Linked DNA regions of Homo sapiens: region 1 is linked to region 2. The links come from fine-mapping of genetic effects on gene expression. A gene starts in region 2. The other region holds a variant in brackets. All regions are shown on one strand. Distances are between the middles of the regions.

What was found.
Region 1: its variant is fine-mapped to the expression of RBM15B in whole blood (INTERVAL, PIP above 0.99).

The regions. Positions count from the first base shown.
Region 1 is chr3:51,651,155-51,659,154 of GRCh38, reverse strand. It overlaps RAD54L2 (RAD54 like 2), which reads right to left. Exons shown (of 23, transcript NM_015106.4): 20 at 2,985-3,184; 21 at 1,486-1,575. Among named protein-coding and RNA genes, the nearest start is that of TEX264, 16 kb to the left of the region's middle. The variant T/C (reference allele first, on the strand shown) is at 3,865.
Region 2 is chr3:51,386,822-51,397,881 of GRCh38, reverse strand. It overlaps RBM15B (RNA binding motif protein 15B), which reads right to left and starts at 6,597. Exons shown (of 1, transcript NM_013286.5): 1 at 1-6,597. The coding sequence starts at 6,482. The coding sequence ends at 3,810. It overlaps MANF (mesencephalic astrocyte derived neurotrophic factor), which reads right to left. Exons shown (of 4, transcript NM_006010.6): 3 at 10,004-10,145; 4 at 8,485-8,977. The coding sequence ends at 8,793. DCAF1 (DDB1 and CUL4 associated factor 1) reads left to right here. Exons shown (of 25, transcript NM_001387579.1): 25 at 1-40. RefSeq lists enhancers at 4,075-4,582, 4,583-5,088, 7,074-7,123 and silencers at 5,984-6,043, 6,154-6,233, 6,274-6,753.

The DNA.
Region 1 (8,000 bases), 260 kb before region 2:
CAGCCTGGGCAACAGAGCGAGACTCTGCCTCAAAAAAAAAAAAAAAAAAAAAAAAACAAGAGCCGGATGGTTTTTGTAAGAGCTTTATAAGCCATAAGGTCTCTATTGTAACTCCTCAATTCTGCTGCTGTAACACAAAAATAGCGTGGCATGACTGTACTCCAAAAAATCTTTATGGACACTGAAATGTGAAATTCATATAATTTCACGTCACAAAATATTACTCTTTTGATTTTTTTTTCCAACCAATTGAAAATGTTAAACCCATTCTTATCTCGCAGATATTATAACAGGTAGCAGGCTAGATTTGACCCATGGGGCATAGAGTTTGGTGACCCCAGCTATAAACTAGGAAGACAGCAGTAAAGGGGGCTGGGTTCTAGACTAGGAAGAATCCAGTAAGGAGGCTGGGAATGGTGTTTTCTATGAGTCTGGGTATTTCATGGCACTTTTTCCCTAACCTCAAAGGTACTCTAACCCAATAGAAGCTAGGGCAAAATCTCCTTACTGAACAAAAAGTCTCAAAGAGCCTCACACAATCATGGGGCTTATTTAAAGGCTAATATGTAAAACAGGCTTGGATAGAAGACGTGGGTGCAGAAAAGAGGGGAAAAAAACAGGCTTAGATTGTGTCTCAATACTGTTTAGCCCAGCTTTTTTATTCCACCAATCTCATATCCCTCTGAAAGGAGGACAGAGGCAGATGTGGACTTTTTAAATTACCATATGCAAAAATTCTATCATGCAACCCATGTGTAATTCATCCACATAATACATATCCTATCAGGGGACCCCCACCCTGCTCCAAGCAAGTGGGTAAATGTATGTAGGCTTATAACCCATTCCACCGCTCTTTCCCTCCAATTTTGGTCTCCTTGTGTCTACTTGTCCCATCCCAAGATTCTCATAAAAATGACAGTAAGGGCCGGGTACGGTGGCTCACGCCTGTAATCCCGGCACGTTGGGAGGCCCAGGTGGGCGGATCATGAGGTCAAGAAATCGAGACCATCCTGGCCAACATAATGAAACCCCATCTCTACTAAAAAAAAAAAAAGTACAAAAATCAGCTGTGCGTGGTGGCGCATGCCTGTAGTCCCAGCTACTTGGGAGGCTGAGGCTGAAGAATTGCTTGAACCTGGGAGGTGGAGGTTGCAGTGAGCCGAGATCACGCAACTGCACTCCAGCCTGGCGACAGAGCAAGACTCCATCTCAAAAAAAAAAAAAAAAAAAAAAAAAAAGACAGCAAGATAGAGAAATGTAGGGACCCTAATTTCCTTCTTTTAAACCACTGACTAATACCCTATGGGCTCAACCCAACTCCCCTAAGCTCCTACAAATGCTATTTTCTCATTCAGTTCCGGAATGTGACATCCTAATGGGATGATTCCTATGACCCGTCTAGCTCAAGTCATATGTATTTATTCTTCTTCCCAGCCCAGCACTCTCAACCAAAGGCAGGGAACAGGTCCTTGGTCAGGCTCTTACCTTTTGTCCCACGGATGATGTGGATGCTCTCACCAGCATTAATTCTTGCCTGTACATCTGTGGAGCTGTTGAGTCCAGGAATAACAATATCTAGGAAAAACACAGATCTTAAATTTAGATTGCACGGGGCCTGACTGAAGGAGGGGGGAAAATTGCAAAGTCCCACATCTACCCCAGTTCTTCATTGGTTTCCCTACAGCCTCTCAGTGGGGCAGAGGTCCAGAACCAAGGAAGGTGAAGCAAGCAGGATCTTTCACAATTATCTAAACAAAGAATACTATGAAAACAGGAACTTTGTCAGAAATCTGAGCTGGTCATCGTTGCAATCAATTTCCCTTTATTTAATTAGAAATTCATAGTTTTTGGTGTGAAAAATGTTTTAGTTTAGATGGTTGTTTCTATGCATTTTTTTCCTCTTCCCCAAACTGTTTGCACGCATCTGCGCCACATCACTTTAGGCTCCAAAAATGGCCTAATCTTCTTCCTTGCTGGCATTACCCCACACCTGGGAAACAGTATTTTCAAGAATTAGTAGATAATAGAATTATATGGCGCTCTCTTTTTCTTTTCATGTGTTTCAAATTTTTTACTTAGAAAAATCAATTAAGATATTTTCATTAAAATTTATATATTGGCCGGGTGCAATGGCTCACACCTGTAATCCCAGCACTGTGGGAGGCCAAGGCGGGTGGATTGCCTGAGCTCAGGAGTTCGAAACCAGCCTGGGCAACATGGTGAAACCCCATCTCTATTAAAATACAAAAAAGTTCACCGGGCATAGTGGCACACGCCTGTAATTCCAGCAACTCGGGAGGCTGAGGCGGGAGAATCGCTTGAGCCCAGGAGTGCAGCGAGCCAAGATCATGCACTCCAGCCTGAGTGACAAAGCAAGACTCTGTCTCCAAAAAAAAAAATAATAATCAATTTATATATTATAAATATTGCTAAATAACAAGATAAAAAACAGGATCACAAAATGTTTTCCTTCCTAATCACACTGAATCACAGAACCAGCTCCTGGAGTGGATGGGTTGGCTACCTGCCACCACTGCTGACTGGCCCACCATGCTCAATTTATATCAAACTCGCAAAGGTAGACGCAAGTGACAATTCAGGTCTTCTCATTATGTACAAAGGTTGACAGCTGTCTTTTATACCCAGATGGGTCTACAATCAGGCAGGGCTCAGCATATTCACACCTCTATAAGAACCTGAGACCAACCCTGTATTCCAGTGACATTTCCACAATTCCTGCAGTGCTCAGAGTCTATCTCACCCACCAAACCCAAGAAAACCCAGTTATGTGTTGTTATTCTTAAGATATTTCACTAGAATCCAAATTCCTCAAGACCAGGGACTGTTGTCTTCCCTATTTTTTACCAAGAGTGCCAAATGTAGTAAGGCCAGAAATACAAAAGGTGTTTAATAGATACTTCCTAAATGAACAAAGTAATTTTAAAAGGGACAGCAGCTCTGCCACAGAGCCCAGGAGTTCCCACCTGTCGTGGTGACCACCTTCTGCACAAGGACTCCTGCACGCTGCAAGTAGTTGATGGGAAAGTTCATGGATGGATTTGTGCTGGAGGCAGAGCTTACACTTCCTCCCAATGGGACATGCCGGGGCATCATGGGGATGGGGGTGGACTGCACAGGACGAACACTGGCCACAGGCTTTTCATCACCCTTCAAAGTTGGCTGCCTGTAAGAGAAAGACAAGGACACTAAAAGAGTTTGGCAGAACAACTGTTACCTTTTCCAAAGGCTACAGAGCCTTTCTAGGCTGCCCCATTCTACACCATCAGTTGATGCTCAGAGAAGGATCAGAAGAATCTGCAGGGTCTGGTCAATTCAAAAGGAGACTAGAAGGCAGGACTCAGTTGCAGCAAAAGAGGCAGAGGGATAAAGTCTGTCAAAGTCTAAGGAGAATCAGATGTTGGTGGAATAATACTTTCTGGAGATGGGAGACAATATTTGCTCCTCTAGAACCTGGACTATCTACATTAGGAGTTAGTCCCTAAAGGGAAGTCAGGAAGCTGTCAAGATGCAATAAGGCAGGAAAAGTTCACCAGACCACAGCGTATGTTAAGTTGAGATGGGCAGAATTTTCCCCACTCACCCACGGAAAAAGGGCCATGTAACGACACGTTTAGGTGATCCTAAAAAATAGTCTGTTCCAACTTTAAACATCTTTACTTTCTCTCTGAAACCTTGAGTCTCAATAAGTAATACAGACACCTCTCTCTCTCTTCTGTATTACTTTTCATTGAGTTCTTCCTAGCTCCAGCCTGGAACAACCCTCAAAGTGCCCCTCCAGTCATGACAACAACAAAAGCAGCAGCCACCAAAGCAGTGTGTACAAAAGCCAGGCTTCTACTGATT[T/C]AAGATTTTTGAAAAGTCCCTGTCTACAAGCTTTCTGAAGTCTGCATCTTTCGTCTTTGGGCCTGGAGGGGGAAAAAAAAAAACCCTTAAGACTGTTATGTTCTTCCTCATCTGACTGAAGATTGGCACATAAAATAACACTTTTATACCACTCTGCTGTTGGAGCTGGTCTGCATGATGCCTCAATCACATTGCTCTTAGGTTTTTAAAGGCCCCTTTGGTCAGCCCCTTGGTCCCTGTGGACCTCCAAGTTCCCAGATGGGCCCCAGACCTGTGCTATCTGGCCTGTTTCCCCAGTGTCTTCCTAGGATGGTTTGGCAGGAGTTAGAGGCCCTGGTCAGGTATCAATGTAACAGAAACCCAGCCCAAGCCGCATACCCTGCAGGGGCTAAGACTAAGAATTTGGGTAAGAAGTATTCCTCACATGTACCCATGTGGATTAAAAAAACTCAGCAGGATCATGAACTCATCAAATGCTGTGAGAAGTTGGTGCCCCCACAGGGCCAGAGCTAAGCCAGAAACAAAGCTGACATCTCCTTATAGCTAGTCTGGACCATTTGTCACATCTTCTCTCCATGTGGCTTTTCTCTCACTGGGCTCAGGTTTAGTCCACTCCTGAGGTTACACAGAAAAGCCCAAAAAAGAGGGGGAAAAAAAAGAGGGAGGAATGGGTGGAGGAAAAGAGAAGAGACCATTCCTGAGCAATACTATCTTGGGAAATGACAGAAATAAAGCCTGAAAGTTTTGAAAGAGAGTGACTTTCTCTTTTGAGATTGAGTCCCACTATGTTGCCAAGGCTGGTCTCCAATTCCTGGACTCAAGCGATTCTCCCACCTCAGCCTCCCAAGAGGCTGGGACTACAGGTATGTGCCACCATGTCTAGTAAGAAAGTGACTTTCTACTTAAAAGTATCTTCAATTTGCTATACAAACAGCAACAAATGGCCGGGCATGATGGCTTATGTCTGTAATCTCAGCACCTTGGGAGGCCGAGGCAGGTGGATCACCTGTGGTCAGGAATTCAAGACCAGCCTGGCCAACATGGTGAAACACAGTCTCTACTAAAAATACAAAAAATTAGCCACGCGTGGTGGTGTGCACCTATAATCCCAGCTACTTGGGTAGCTAGGGGAGGAGAACTGCTTGAACCCAGGAAGCGAAGGTTGCAGTGAGCCGAGATCACACCATTACACTCCAGCCTGGGCAACAGAGACTCTGTACCCCACCCCCAAAAAAGACAACAAATCCACTCATAAAAGTCAATGTCTTACCTAAAACCTTACATGAGACTTATTTGGCAAGTTTTCCAAAATTTCCTTTGGAACCTCATTTGTCAAGTTTTTTTGTTTGTTTGAATTTTATTATACTTTAAGTTCCAGGGTACACATGCACAACGTGTAGGGTTGTTACGTATGTATACATGTGCCATGTTGGTATGCTGCACCCATTAACTCGTCATTTAACATTAGGTATTTCTCCTAATGCTATCCCTCCCCCATCCCCCCACACCATGCCAGGCCCCAGTGTGTGATGTTCCCCTTCCTGTGTCCACGTGTTCTCATTGTTCAATTCCCACCTATGAGTGAGAACATGCAGTGTTTGGTTTTCTGTCCTTGTGATAGTTTGCTGAGAATGGTGGTTTCCAGCTTCATCCATGTCCCTACAAAGGACATGAACTCATCCTTTTTTATGGCTGCATAGTATTCCATGGTGTGTATGTGCCACATTTTCTTAATTCAGTCTATCATTGATGGACATCTGGGTTGGTTCCAAGTCTTTGCTATTGTGAATAGTGCCGCAATAAACATACATGTGCATGTGTCTTTATAGTAGCATGATTTATAATCCTTTGGGTATATACCCAGTAATGGGATGGCTGGGTCAAATGGTATTTCTAGTTCTAGATCCTTGAGGAATCACCACACTGTCTTCCACAATGGTTGAACTAGTTTACAGTCCCACCAACAGTGTAAAAGTGTTCCTATTTCTCCACATTCTCTCCAGCACCTGTTGTTTCCTGACTTTTTAATGATCACCATTCTAACTGGTGTGAGATGGTATCTCATTGCGGTTTTGATTTGCATTTCTCTGATGGCCAGTGATGATGAACATTTTTTTCATGTGTCTGTTGGCTGCCTAAATGTCTTCTTTTGAAAAGTGTTTGTTCATATCCTTTAACCACTTTTTGATGGGGTTGTTTGATTTTTTCTTGTAAATTTGTTTAAGTTCTTTGTGGATTCTGGATATTAGCCCTTTGTCAGATGGGTAGTTTGCAAAAATTTTCTCCCACTCTGTAGGTTGCCTGTTCACTCTGATGGTAGTTTCTTTTGCTGTGCAGAATCTCTTTAGTTTAATTAGATCCCATTTGTCTATTTTGGCTTTTATTGCCATTACTTTTGGTGTTTTAGTCATGAAGTCCTTGCCCATGCCTATGTCCTGAATGGTATTGCCTAGGTTTTCATCTAGGGTTTTTATGATTTTAGGTCTAACATTTAAGTCTTTAATCCATCTTGAATTGATTTTTGTATAAGGTGTAAGGAAGGGATCCAGTTTCAGCTTTCTACATATGGCTAGCCAGTTTTTCCAGCACCATTTATTAAATAGGGAATCCTTTCCCCATTTCTTGTTTCTGTTCAGGTTTGTCAAAGATCAGATGGTTGTAGACGTGTGGTGTTATTTCTGAGGGCTCTATTCTGTTCCATTGGTCTATATTTTGGTTTTGGTACCAGTACCATGCTGTTTTGGTTACCGTAGCCTTGTAGTATAGTTTGAAGTCAGGTAGCATGATGCCTCCAGCTTTGTTCTTTTGGCTTAGGATTGTCTTGGCAATGCAGGCTCTTTTTTGGTTCCATATGAACTTTAGTTTTTTCCAGTTCTGTGAAGAAAGTCGTTGGTAGCTTGATGGGGATGGCATTGAATCTATAAATTACCTTGGGCAGTATGGCCATTTTCACGATGTTGATTCTTCCTATCTCTGAGCATGGAATGTTCTTCTATTTGTTTGTGTCCTCTTTTATTTGTTGAGCAGTGGTTTATAGTTCTCCTTGAAGAGGTCCTTCACATCCCTTGTAAGTTGGATTCCTAGGTATTTTATTCTCTTTGAAGCAATTGTGAATGGGAGTTCACTCATGATTTGGCTCTCTGTCTGTTATTGGTGTATAGGAATGCTTGTGATTTTTGCACACTGATATTGTACCCTGAGACTTTGCTGAAGTTGCTTATCAGCTTAAGGAGATTTTGGGCTGAGACAATGGGGTTTTCTAAATATACAATCATGTCATCTGCAAATAGGGACAATTTGACTTCCTCTTTTCCTAATTGAATACCCTTTATTTCTTTCTCTGGCCTGATTGCCCTGGCCAGAACTTCCAACACTATGTTGAATAGGAGTGGTGAGAGAGAGCATCCCAGTCTTGTGCCAGTTTTCAAAGGGAAGGCTTCCAGTGTTTGCCCATTCAGTATGATATTGGCTGTGGGTTTGTCACAAATAGCTCTTATTATTTTGAGATACGTTCCATCAATACCTAGTTTACTGAGAGCTTTTAGCATGAGGGGCTGTTGAATTTTGTCGAATGCCTTTTCTGCATCTATTGAGATAATCATGTGGTTTTTGTCTTTGGTTCTGTTTATGTGATGGATTACATTTATTGATCTGCATATGTTGAACCAGCCTTGCATCACAGGGATGAAGCCAACTTGATCTTGGTGGATAAGCTTTTTGATATGCTGTTAGATTCTGTTTGCCAGTATATTATTGAGGATTTTCACATCGATGTTCATCAGGGATATTGGTCTAAAATTCTCTTTTTTTGTTGTGTCTCTGCCAGGCTTTGGTATCAGGATGATGCTGGCCTCATAAAATGAGTGAGGGAGAATTTCCTCTTTTTCTATTGATTGGCATAGTTTCAGAAGGAATGGTACCAGCTCCTCTTTGTACCTCTGGTAGAATTCAGCTCTGAATCCATCTGGTCCTGGACTTTTTTTGGTTGGCAGGCTATTAATTATTGCCTCAATTTCAGAGCCTGTTGTTGGTCTATTCAGGGATTCAACTTCTTTCTGGTTTAGTCTTGGGAGGGTATATGGGTGCAGGAATTTATCCATTTCCTCTAGATTTTCTAGTTTATTTGCATAGAGGTG
Region 2 (11,060 bases):
TTAAAAAAAATACAAAATAAACTACAAGTCTGTCTTTGTTTATGGCCTTTCCCTATTTTCTTTTACCGAAGTGGGGTGTGTCCCTTTTTTGCAGCTCTAGCCAGGCCATAGAGAAGACACCTTCCAGGAGAGGCAAGGAGAGCATGTTCTGCCCACATAGAGCACTCCAGGGAGGAAAGTAGCTTATACTCACAGTGTCTGCCCCTGCCGTGTAGCTCTCTCATGGGGAGGGCCTGTTTTTGTAAGGGTAATGTGGAGAGAGAGGTCAGGGCTTTGTTCCCTGTGGACGCAGCTCTCTGTTGTCATGTTCTGGATCCAGCAGGCTGCTCCCAAGTACAGATTTGGTAGAACTGGAAAGGGAGGTATTCTGGGAAGTTTTGGAGGATGGAGTTGGCAAAGCTAAGGAGTGAAAGCATTTCGGCCGTCTCTGTAGCTGGGGCAGCGGCCACTAATGTTTTCTGAAAGGGATTGTGACAGTGGACTTGAGCATCCTGGCAGGTTAGGGGTAGTGGAGCTTGTCTGCGTTTGTAGAAAGATACTTCAGAGGCCCCTAAAATTGGCCTATGGTTAAACTGTGTAACCACCAGGCAAGGTACCAGGGATTTCCACCTTTTCACTCACCCGCCCCACCCTGTTTTCCTTCCCACAATAAATAGAAGACCATAGTCTCTTTCTTCCTTTGATTTTGCCCAAATAACAGCTGCTCAGTTTGTTACATAGGTATTATCCAGCTAAAGTGACTTCTCTCCCTTAACAGAGAGAAGAGGGGACAAATTTGGTTGTGAAGTAAACAAGAAACACAAGACGGCTAAAACTCTCCAGGGGCAGGTAAAGCCCTGCTGGGCTCAGAAGCACTATAGAATTTGCTGTACACACTGAAGTGGGTCTGTGTCACACAGGTATTTCTTGGTCCTCTGGAGAGCAGAGGACTCACTCAGCTCTTTGCTTCATGCCTCGCTTTAATGGTAGTAAACACTTAACCAGTGGAATAGTCTGACTGCTGGTACTGATGGCATCAGAAGAAAACAGGTTAACAATCAAGTAGTGAAAGCACTATATTCTAGTCATTAACTCAACGGAGCCAGTCTCAACTCTGCTGGGAGCACCCACAGGTCTCTGTGGGGGAGACAGGGACTATAACAGGGAGGCAGAATTCAGGTTGGCTTGACAACACACCTTAGGAACATGTGCTAAGGGGCTAAGGAGGCATCAGCTGTCTTCCTTATTCTACCAGGGCTGAAAATCGGAGTCACTTAGGAGGCAGCATGAGAACAGTGGCACACCACCAGTGAGGCACATGTTGCCTTTTTGTCTTTAAGCAACACCTTAGACAGGGCCTGAACCCTGGGTGGGGGCACTGGATGCCTGAAGTAAGTAAGTTTTCTCAGTGGGGCAGTCTCATAAAATCACCAGGACATTGACCACCTGACCTCCCCTAACTAGTGCTGGCCAAGGCCTGAGAGTTCACAGAACCTGCTAGGTCTTAAGAGCCAAAGGAAGGAAGTGGTTGAGGGCCAGGAAAGAGAAGGAATGTCATGCCAGGGTGTTACTCCTCACCAAAACTTGGCAGTTCTTTTTGGGGCCATGGGACACCTTTCTCTGAAGAGGGGTTGGATAAGGCAAAGGTTGAAGTGTCTTCTCTAGGCACGTTTTCTAGCATGTTTCCTTTTACTTGGTTCTGTCTCACAAAGCTGGGAGGTAGATGATTCTTCCGGGTCCTGAGCACCTGCTTCATGAAGGAAGATAGGTAGCCCAGAGAAGAAGTTTTGGACTTAACAACATACCAAGGCAGCTCTGGCCTGTGACTCAGGCGTTTGTTGGAGAGCTGCAGGAAAACCACTGCAGTGTGCCTGCAACAGGACAAGACCCACTCCTGTTTCTGGCGGTACCAGCTACCCTGGAATGGTGGCGTGTCCTGCTGTACCCAACTGACTTGCTTAGGTACCTGGCAGCTGTGACCACAGCTCAAGTAAAAAAACAAAAACAGGCAAATAAATAAACATGCTTAACATGTCTTTGTGTTGCTGTTTTGTTATGAACGTGCTTGCTCTCTTGCGAGGCACCTGTCCATTCCACATCACCGAGGGGTCTACGAGAGCACTGCCAAGTGTTCCTGTGGACCAGCATGACCTCTCCACAGCCTGCAGTGAGCCCCAGCCTCTAATCTCAGGTGTCACTCATGCTACCTTATCCTAGCTCCGGTAAGGGAGCAGACCTGGAGAGAGGATGCCACGGCCAGCAGAACCTGGAGTTCCTGGTTATCATCTAGGGGCTCATTCGCTTACCAGAGCTTCTGTTCTCCTCAGCCCTGACAGTGTTCCCTGTTTGAACATCCAAGGTACCAGACACGCTGAAGAATGGCATTTGGGGTGTTCCATGGTGACAAAACTGTGTGCTCTGGTTTTCCTCCCTGGCCCACACTGTCCGCAGTACCTTCCTTACTTACTTGAGACAGGGAAGAAGACGGAATCTCACCCTTCTTCCCAGCTAGAGGGTACCTCCGCATCCCTTTCCTCCCCAACTGGCTTGAGTGGCTTCAAGCTCTAGCACTGCCTAACAAACAAACAAACACCTCAGTGACTTGTGATTTCCCCCCAGAAAAATATCTATTAATTATTTCCCAATGGTCTCCACCTCGGCATCAGGGCACAAGGTGTAGGCACATGCTCTGATCTTGCACCTAGGAAACCGTCATTATCAAGGGCATCCCCTAGTCCACTGTGCTCCCCGGTAAGTACTTCAGTCTAGAGGTTCAGTATCCCCCCACAAATCTCTAGGTATGACTGGACACGGGCCTGCTCTATTACCCATCACCCCTGAACGACCAGAGAAAGCCAAAAATCACAAACAACTAGGCAAAGTTCATGAGTAAATCCAAGGAAGGCTGCCTCCAACCCTCCATTCCAGTATTTGGACTCCCGGGCCCCTGGGAACCTGAGGCAACTCTGTCTCCCAACACTGGCTATCCCTGGGCTGAGTGAGGCTAGAAAGTAGGCCGAACCAGGAGCCTGGACAGATCAGGGGCCCCGAGACCCCCTGGCATCAACAGTGCACAGCTTCTCCTTGTACAAGACTACACAGCTGCTGAAGGCTACCTGCTGCCAAACATGCTGAGTGGGCACTCTGTCCCAAACAAACAGCCACAGCTCAAACTGATGATGATGGACACACACACGGTTTAAGGCAGAAAAAACCATCAGTAGCTGCTGACCACAGGCCTTGCGCTCACCCCATCCCTTCCTTTGCATGGGCTCTACTCAGGCTTGTGTGGCAGCGTCCACAGCCCAAACTGAAGCTTGCCTGCTGTCAGCCAAGATAAAAATGAGTGTAAGTAGAGTCCAGACTGAGCCTGAAGAATTGAGAGGCCGAGAGTGACCCATGCAGCAGTGGTGCTGGAAGGATGACGTAGGGCATTCGTGTACATGCACTAGGGATGTCTTCGATTCTTTTAGCTTGATTGATTAAACCAGGACTCTGAACAGGTTTAAAAATCCATCCTCTGTCAAAGGTTTTACTGACAACTTTCCATACAGTTGGTCAAAAAATAAAAAAATACAGAACCACAGCAGACAGTATCTTGTACACTAGAAATCAACATAACCGGATTCCCTTCTCATCGTTTAAAAAAAAAAATCCCCCAAAATCTAAGAACTTAGTTTTGGTGGTGGACAGGACTTTGATCCCCACCCAAATGAACCAAAATAACCCAGGAGATAATTCAAACCAAAGTGGTAGGGTAGAGAGGGGATCAGATTTTAAAATAACTGCTTTTGTGACACAAACATGACGCTGGGAAAGACAGGCTTGGGCTAGGCAGTGTCTCTGACGATGACTATCACCATGTGTTCTTCTTCTAGCTTGCCCAATGTCCTTAGTGCTGACTGGAGGTACTGCTGGGAAAAGTCGCAGGGTGGGAAGGCGTAGAGCATGCCTGTGCCGTCTCTGCCCTTGGACCCCCCCACTGGCAAGCTGATCACCCCTGCGGCCTGCTTCTGTTTCAAGTAGGAGACCAGGTTCCTGAGAAGCCGCCTCTGCAGACCGGGCTCTACTGTGGGCATCCCCTCAGTGCCAAGCCCACTGGGGGTTGCCTGGGTGGCTAAGAGGACCGCATAGCCGTTGGGGCTCCCCTGCTTGATGCGTCGTGTGACCTCGTCAAGCTTGGGCTGGTCCAGTCGAAGGCGCTGGGCGATCTTCAGCTGGGTCAGCTTGCTCCCAGAAGTGTGGTCTTTGAGGAGACTGCTGATCACCCCCTGGTCCCCCTCTAGGATATGCATAGACGTGGGGAAGCAGCTGTTTTTCAACACCAGAAGCCCATTCCAACCCAGCTGTAGTGTCTGAGCGTACTCTGAAAGATTCTTCAGCTTTTTGGTCTCGTGTTTTGGCTCTTCCAGAGGCTTGGGCTCGGCCTCTGTGGTCCGGTGATTGCGCTCGCTGTCTCTTGCCTTCTTCCCGTGGGAAGAGTCTGCAGCCTCGTGGTGGTGGTGGTGGTGGCCCCGTTCCTCAGCCCCATGTCTGCTGTTGCTGAGGGAGTTGCTGCTGGACTCCTTGGTCCCTTCACTGGAGTGGTTCTCCTTGCGGCTGCGCTCAGGGGTGCGGTCGGAGCCCCGCTCTGACTGCTGCCCACTGCCCTTGGTCCTACTCCGTTCCTCATATGGTGAATGGGTTGTCCTCCCACGGTCACTGGAAAGGCTTCTCCGTTTCCGCCTCTCTTCCCAGGGCTTGGGCAAACCACGGTCTCCATCTGCCCCCCAACGCTCACCACTCCGGCTGCGCACTGAGCGACTGTAGCCCTCAAGGCTGTTTCGGCGGTCAGAGCTTTTACTGGGGCTGGTCCAGTCCCCTTCCAAAAAAGTCCGGTCTCGGTCTGAGTACAGAAGGTGTGGGGGCGTCCTGTCCCGCACCAGGTCGGCGTCCAGGTTGCGGTGCCGGGTGTATCCATCTGTGAGCAGCTCATAATGCACAGGGAGTGGCGAGGGCTGGTACTGCTGGGGGTACCGAGTCTCCTCTGCTTTGGCAAAATCCACGCGGAGCCTGCGGTCTGGTCCACCCAAGGGAAAACCCCTCATTTTAGCACAGGCGGCCTGGGCTGCGTCCAAGCTCTCGTACTGAATATAGGCAAAGCTATCTCCTTTGACGTGATCAATGGTCCGAATGCTCCCAAAGCGGTCAAACTCTCGGGCCAGAGCCGCCAGTGACGTGTTAGGTCCCAGGCCACCCACCCAGAGACGAGTGGTGGGGTTGGCCTTGCCATAGCCTATCTTAATGGGGTTGCGACCAATCACTCGGCCCGACATGGCCACCTTAGCCCTATGGGCCATGTCCAGGTTCTGGAACTTGAGGAAGGCATAGGCACCGCCCTGGCCACGGGCAGGCCTCTTGATGACCACCTCCTCGATGATGCCATATTTCTCGAAGGCCCTTCGCAGCTCCACCTCAGATACGCTGTGGTCCAGGTTACCAATGAAGAGGTTGCGCGTGGCCCGCTGGTCATCCTCGGGCATCAGGTCCTCCTCACACACAGCTGGGTAGCCATAGGGGCGCCCACGGTCGTCGTACAGCCCGTAGTAGTCCAGGGCCCGCTCCCGGGACAGTCCCACGGCGGCGGCAGCAGCGGCATCCAGGGCGAAGGCTGCGGCGGCGTGACGGGCACGGGGCTCCCGCAGGGGCGGGGCAGCGACGGGGGACAGCGAGCGCTGCTTGTACTGGTAGCCTCCGTGTAGCGGGAGGTAGCCGAGCGGGTCGGCGGGCGCGGGCGGCCCTGGGGGAGGCGTGGAAGCGGCGGCGCTGCTGCTGCTACTTCGCCGACTGCTCCCGCCGCCGCCACGCAGGTACACGGGCTCTACCTTGAGCGGGCGGTCGTAGAGCAGCAGCTGCCGGGCCAGGGCGTGCTGGCGGGCCTCGCGTGCGTCCTGTGGGTGCCGGAAATTCACGTAGGCCACACGGCCCAGCTCAGGCGTGTGCGACAGGCGGAGGCTGATCTCGCCGAAGCGCTTGAACTGGTGGAAGAGCCGGTCCTCGAGGTGCTCGGCGGGCAGCGCGGGGCTCAAGCTGCTGATGAGCAACGTCTTGTACTCAGGCGCGGCCGCGGATGAGCCGGGACACGCGGGCTCGGCCCCAGGCGGTGGCGGAGGCGGCGGCAGAGGAGACGCGCGGGGCGACATGCCGGAGGCGCCCGGGTCCCCCGAGGCCTTGCCGCCGCGTCCCCCGCCGCCAGCGCCGGAGCCCGAGGAGCGCCCGCTACTCGCGCGGTGATTCGCGTCCCCGGTGCCGCGGCCGTCGCGATGCCCGCCCCCGCCGCTTCCGCTGCCGCGGGGTTTGTCGCGGGCCCGCGCTGGAACCGGGTGCTTGGCGCCGCCAGAGGCCTTGTGCGCCGCCCGCCGCCCGCCCGCCTCCGCCTCCCGTTCGCGCTCCCGCGGACGCTTGGCGGACGATGACGAGCCGCGCCCGCTCGGGCTAGAGTCTCGCTCGCTCTGCCGCTTCATGGCGCTGGCGCGGCGGGCGGGCGGCCCGTAGGTTTCTCACAGCGGCGGCGGCGGAGGCGGCGGCCGAGGAGGCAGCGCCCCCGGCGCCGCCATCTTGGACAAAAGGACTCGGCGCGGCGGTGGCGGCGGGGCGGGGCGGGAGCGGCGCCGAGGGGCCGGGCATTGCGTTATCAAGGTGCGCCGTCCTGCCACGTGACTCTGCGGCGGGCGGAGCAAGACCCGCGCCGGGCCTGCCTCATCGCGCTGCGTCGCCCAGTGCCAGGTGACCCTGTGAGTGCTGGGTGAGTGGGACCGGCCGCGCGCTCTGGCGCCACCGCGCGGCCCGCATGGCCGATGCTTGAGGCTACGCGGAGTGTAGTGAACCCTGAGAGGCCGGCGAGACGACCTAACGCTTTGTGCTCCCAGCCGTGCTTTGCCGCTCTGGGTCCAGCTATCTCCTCTTGCAGGCACTGGAGCCCGCGCTGATTGGAGCAGGAGTGGCAGCTTCCATGGCCGTTGGGATCTGGGGCATTGACCCAGTCAGTGGTCTCTTTATGTAGTATCCCCTCAGTCCTAGGACTAGGCTTGAGCAAACCCCACATCACCCTCGTTGGCATCTCCTGCCTGGGATCCGGCGTTGACGGCGCCAAGGACTAATGCATGCCTATCCTTAGACCCTGCCCAGGACCCAAGGCCCACATTCTGCGCATTCTCCACGTGCAGGTTCACCTGCAGCAGTCCCCGAAAAGGCCGTGAGGACAATTGCTGTCACGCAGGTAATAACCGAAAGCAGAGACAAGCCTGCAGTTGCAGTTGATGGAGTTGGAATAGACTCTTTAACGCCACTCTTGGGTCCCACCCTCTTCTGTGGGCAGATAGCAGGCTGGAAAGGTAGGGCCGTAAGAGCCAAGGATGAAGAGGCCATATGCACAGATAGTGCCAGCAGTTATCACACCTTGCCACGCTGACCCCTCGCTGGCCAGTACCCTCCTGTTCATCACCTTCAGGACGACCTCTTCTCCCCAGGTGAGGTGAGGGAAAGGGTGCCCAGGTGCTCAAGCCCATTGAGGAAGCTTTCATTCTCCAAGGACAGTTGCTGGAGCCATGGTAGAACCTGACCCAATTTCTGGCACAGAATCCTTGCGATGGGGAAGAGCAGACCAAGTCATGCCCTCTTCGCACAAAGAGAAAGCAGCTCCTGGAGTAGCTCAGGCAGGTGCAGGGGGAAAGGTCTTGGAAGAAAGCAATGGGTTCCACAGCAGCAAGGCCTCCTACAGGCAAACTGAGCTTAGGAGACACAAGTGAAGTGATCTGAGGCAAGACCAATTACTTGGAAAGCACTGGTTCTTAGTCCGTCCTTTCAGGTGGTTTCTACAGGTGTCTTCATTGAGCCACAGCTCACACTAACAACTGGGTTTCCTAAGCACCAGTGCCACAGAGAGTGGCTTAAGAAGCAGACTCCAGCAAAACCCTGGACCTCAACTGTTAGACTAATCTAGGGTAAACAAAGGCAAAAGGCAGCTTCCCACTCCCTCTTTGTATAAGCTGACTCCTGCCAGACTTGCAAAAACTGGAACAGACATCAGAGGCTTGGAATGGACAAAAGAGCAAGTAGGTGGCCAGGCCAACAGCATCTTTATAGAGATGTCAGTGCTGACGTGCACTGATTGAAGATATCCTTGTGGAAAAACCACACTCCAGACACCCTGTCTTGCTTGTACTGAGCCACAATATAAGGCCCTCCAATGTATCCCAGACTCACTCCTCCTAGAGCTGTGGCCTCCAGCTCTCTTGGGCGGGTAAGACAGATACTGTATCAAGGGGCAGGGTATCAAGCGCAGCACCCCCCGCCCCCGCCACCTCCTTTCTGCTGAGTGCCTGCTGCCCTCTAGTGGTACACACCCACACACATCAGCTGGCCCCAGCCCCTATGTCCTGCTCTGGTATTTTCAGCACTGGTGGGTTGAGAGATAAATGGGAATGAATAACCCCCCAAACTCTGCAACTGGAAAGCAGAAACTGGTAGGAGCCTCCTGGGGCAAAACCCCATTTTGGTATTCACTATAATTCTGCAAGGACAGCTAGAAATTTTTTTTCTTTAATAAAAAAATCCCAGACACACTTTGAAGTCCTAGAGTACACCAGCAACAGAAGGAAGGGAATCCCCTCATGGGGGTACTGTAGGGCCAGCATCATCAGGAAAGCTCCAGGCTTCACATCTGATACAGTATTGTCAGGAGCCCACTTAAAAAATAAATTACAAAAAGGCTGTTTTGGGAGTAAGCAGTTGAACTGTTTTTTCCCCCTCAGGTGCAACAGAGATTGAGCAGACTACAAATCGGTCCGTGCACTGGCTGCCTTGGGGGCATATTTAGGCATCAGTTCATTTATCTTCCGGATGTAGTCAGACTTTTCTGCACAGCCTTTGCATGTCTCCCCCCAGTCATCCAGAATCTTCTTCAGCTCTTTAACTCGGAGCTTCTTCAGGTCCACTGTGCTCAGGTCGATCTGCTTGTCTGGAGGAGAGAGCAGGGAGAGTCACTGACTGGGTGGAGCACCTGCAGTCCCCCAGTAGTCCCAGAGTATGTCACTCCCTGAACGGCCAAACCAGCCCTACTGGTTTCAGAGGAAGAGACATTTCCAGACACATTTACAGGCATGTCAGTGCCTACTGCCCCCACAAGAGGGAACTAGCCTCTTCACCAGGAAGGCTGGCTACATATTATGTCTACTACAGATATGCAGCGTGAACAAGGATAGGGACAGAGGCCACACTGTCCTTATAGGAGAAACATGGTTCCCATCTTCCAAGTGCCTCTGACATAGTCACCACATACTAACAACTCCAGGCTGGTGCCAAAGAGCAGCCCTGCTCAGGCCTTTGAGTTAGGAACTTACTCTCCATGACCACAGTGACCTGGAGCCAACTGGACCTGTACCAGGAAGACGCAAGTAGGTGAACACAGGTCCTTGGCCATTCAAGTTTTTCAGAAGAGGCCCTGACTGTTTCTGAAGACTGGGACTATGTACACCAGAGACCCAGTCAGCAAGAGAGATGCTGTAGTTCCTAACTCTTGGGCTTGCATGCTTGGACATAGTGTTTCTTTTCAGAATAGTAAAAATCACTGGGGCTTCAGAGCTTGCAGCCAGAACCAGCCTGTTAAACCCAAGTCGTACTATGTCCCTTCTCTGCTGAAAAACTCCTAATGCTCCTAACTTCACGCAGATTAAAAGCCCTCACCAGCCTGCAATGCTCTCTGACTTGCCATGCCACTGGACACCTTTATCCTGCCTGTATCCTCTTCCATTAGCTGGCCTCTTGGCTAATCCTCACCTCCTTCAAAGTTTGCTGAAATATCACTTCTTCAATAAGGCCTATTCTGACCTCCACCCACTTCCATGCCAGAGCCCTCCAGCATTTAGCACCATCTGTCATACAATACAACCCACTCATGACTCTAGCTCATCATTTTCCTCTCCCAGATGGGAAACAAACCCAGAAGGTGCACAGCATTCATTAAGAAAGGACTAGGCATACTCACCATACTTAAGCTCACATATCTGGCTGTCCTTCTTCTTAAGCTTCTCACAGATCTTCTCCACAGGGATGTGGTGGGCCAGAGGCTTTGATACCTCATTGATGATTTTGGTGGCTGCATCATCTGTGGCCCCGATATAGTAGCACTGGAGCAATAAAGGACAATGGCCTTCAGGAGGTGCTTGAGAGCCATCTCCTCCAAACATACTGACACCTTGAAACATCATCTCTCTGTAGGGCCTTACTTGTGTTTTGAGATAGGGCTCCCTGTCACCCAGGCTGGAATGCAGTGGCATGATCACGGCTCCCTGCAGCTTCAATCTGTTGGGTGGTGATCCTCCCCTCTCAGCCACCCTAGTAGCTGGGTCTACCGGTGTGGGCCACCACACCCAGCTAACTAAAACAATTTTTTTTTTTTTTTGAGATAAAGTTTTGCTCTGTCACCCAGGCTGGAGTGCAGTGGCGCAATCTTGGCTCGGCTCACTGCAACCTCCGCCTCCCAGGTTCAAGCAATTCTCCCTGCCTCAGCCTCCTGAGCAGCTGGGATTACAGGCGCCTGTCACCATGCCTGGCTAATTTTTGTATTTTTTAGTAGAGATAGAGTTTTGCCATGTTGGCCAGGCTGGTCTTGAACTCCTGACCTCAGGTGATCCACCCACCTCGGTCTCCCAAAGTGCTGAGATTACAGGTGTGAGCCACCACGCCTAGCCTAAAAATTTTTTTGTGCAGACAGGATTTCACCACTTTGCCCAGGCTGATCTCAAACTCCTAAGTTCAAGCAATCCTCCCACCTTGGCCTCCCAAAGTGCTAGGAAGACAGGCATGAGCCACCGCACCTGGCCCACAGCGGCATTTTTCGGTGCCCTGCCTGTACTGGTAGTCAGATTCAGCCAGTGTAAACCCTGGACTCTTAACACATGCTCAGTCCAAGCTGACAGCCACCAAATGAATTTAAGTGTCACCAGGGTTCAAACCTTTAACAGAGAGAAAAGCCAGAGACTGTCAGAGAAATTCAAGTTAGAAAACCCATTGCTTCACTAGGGCTTTTGTCTTGGATTCGG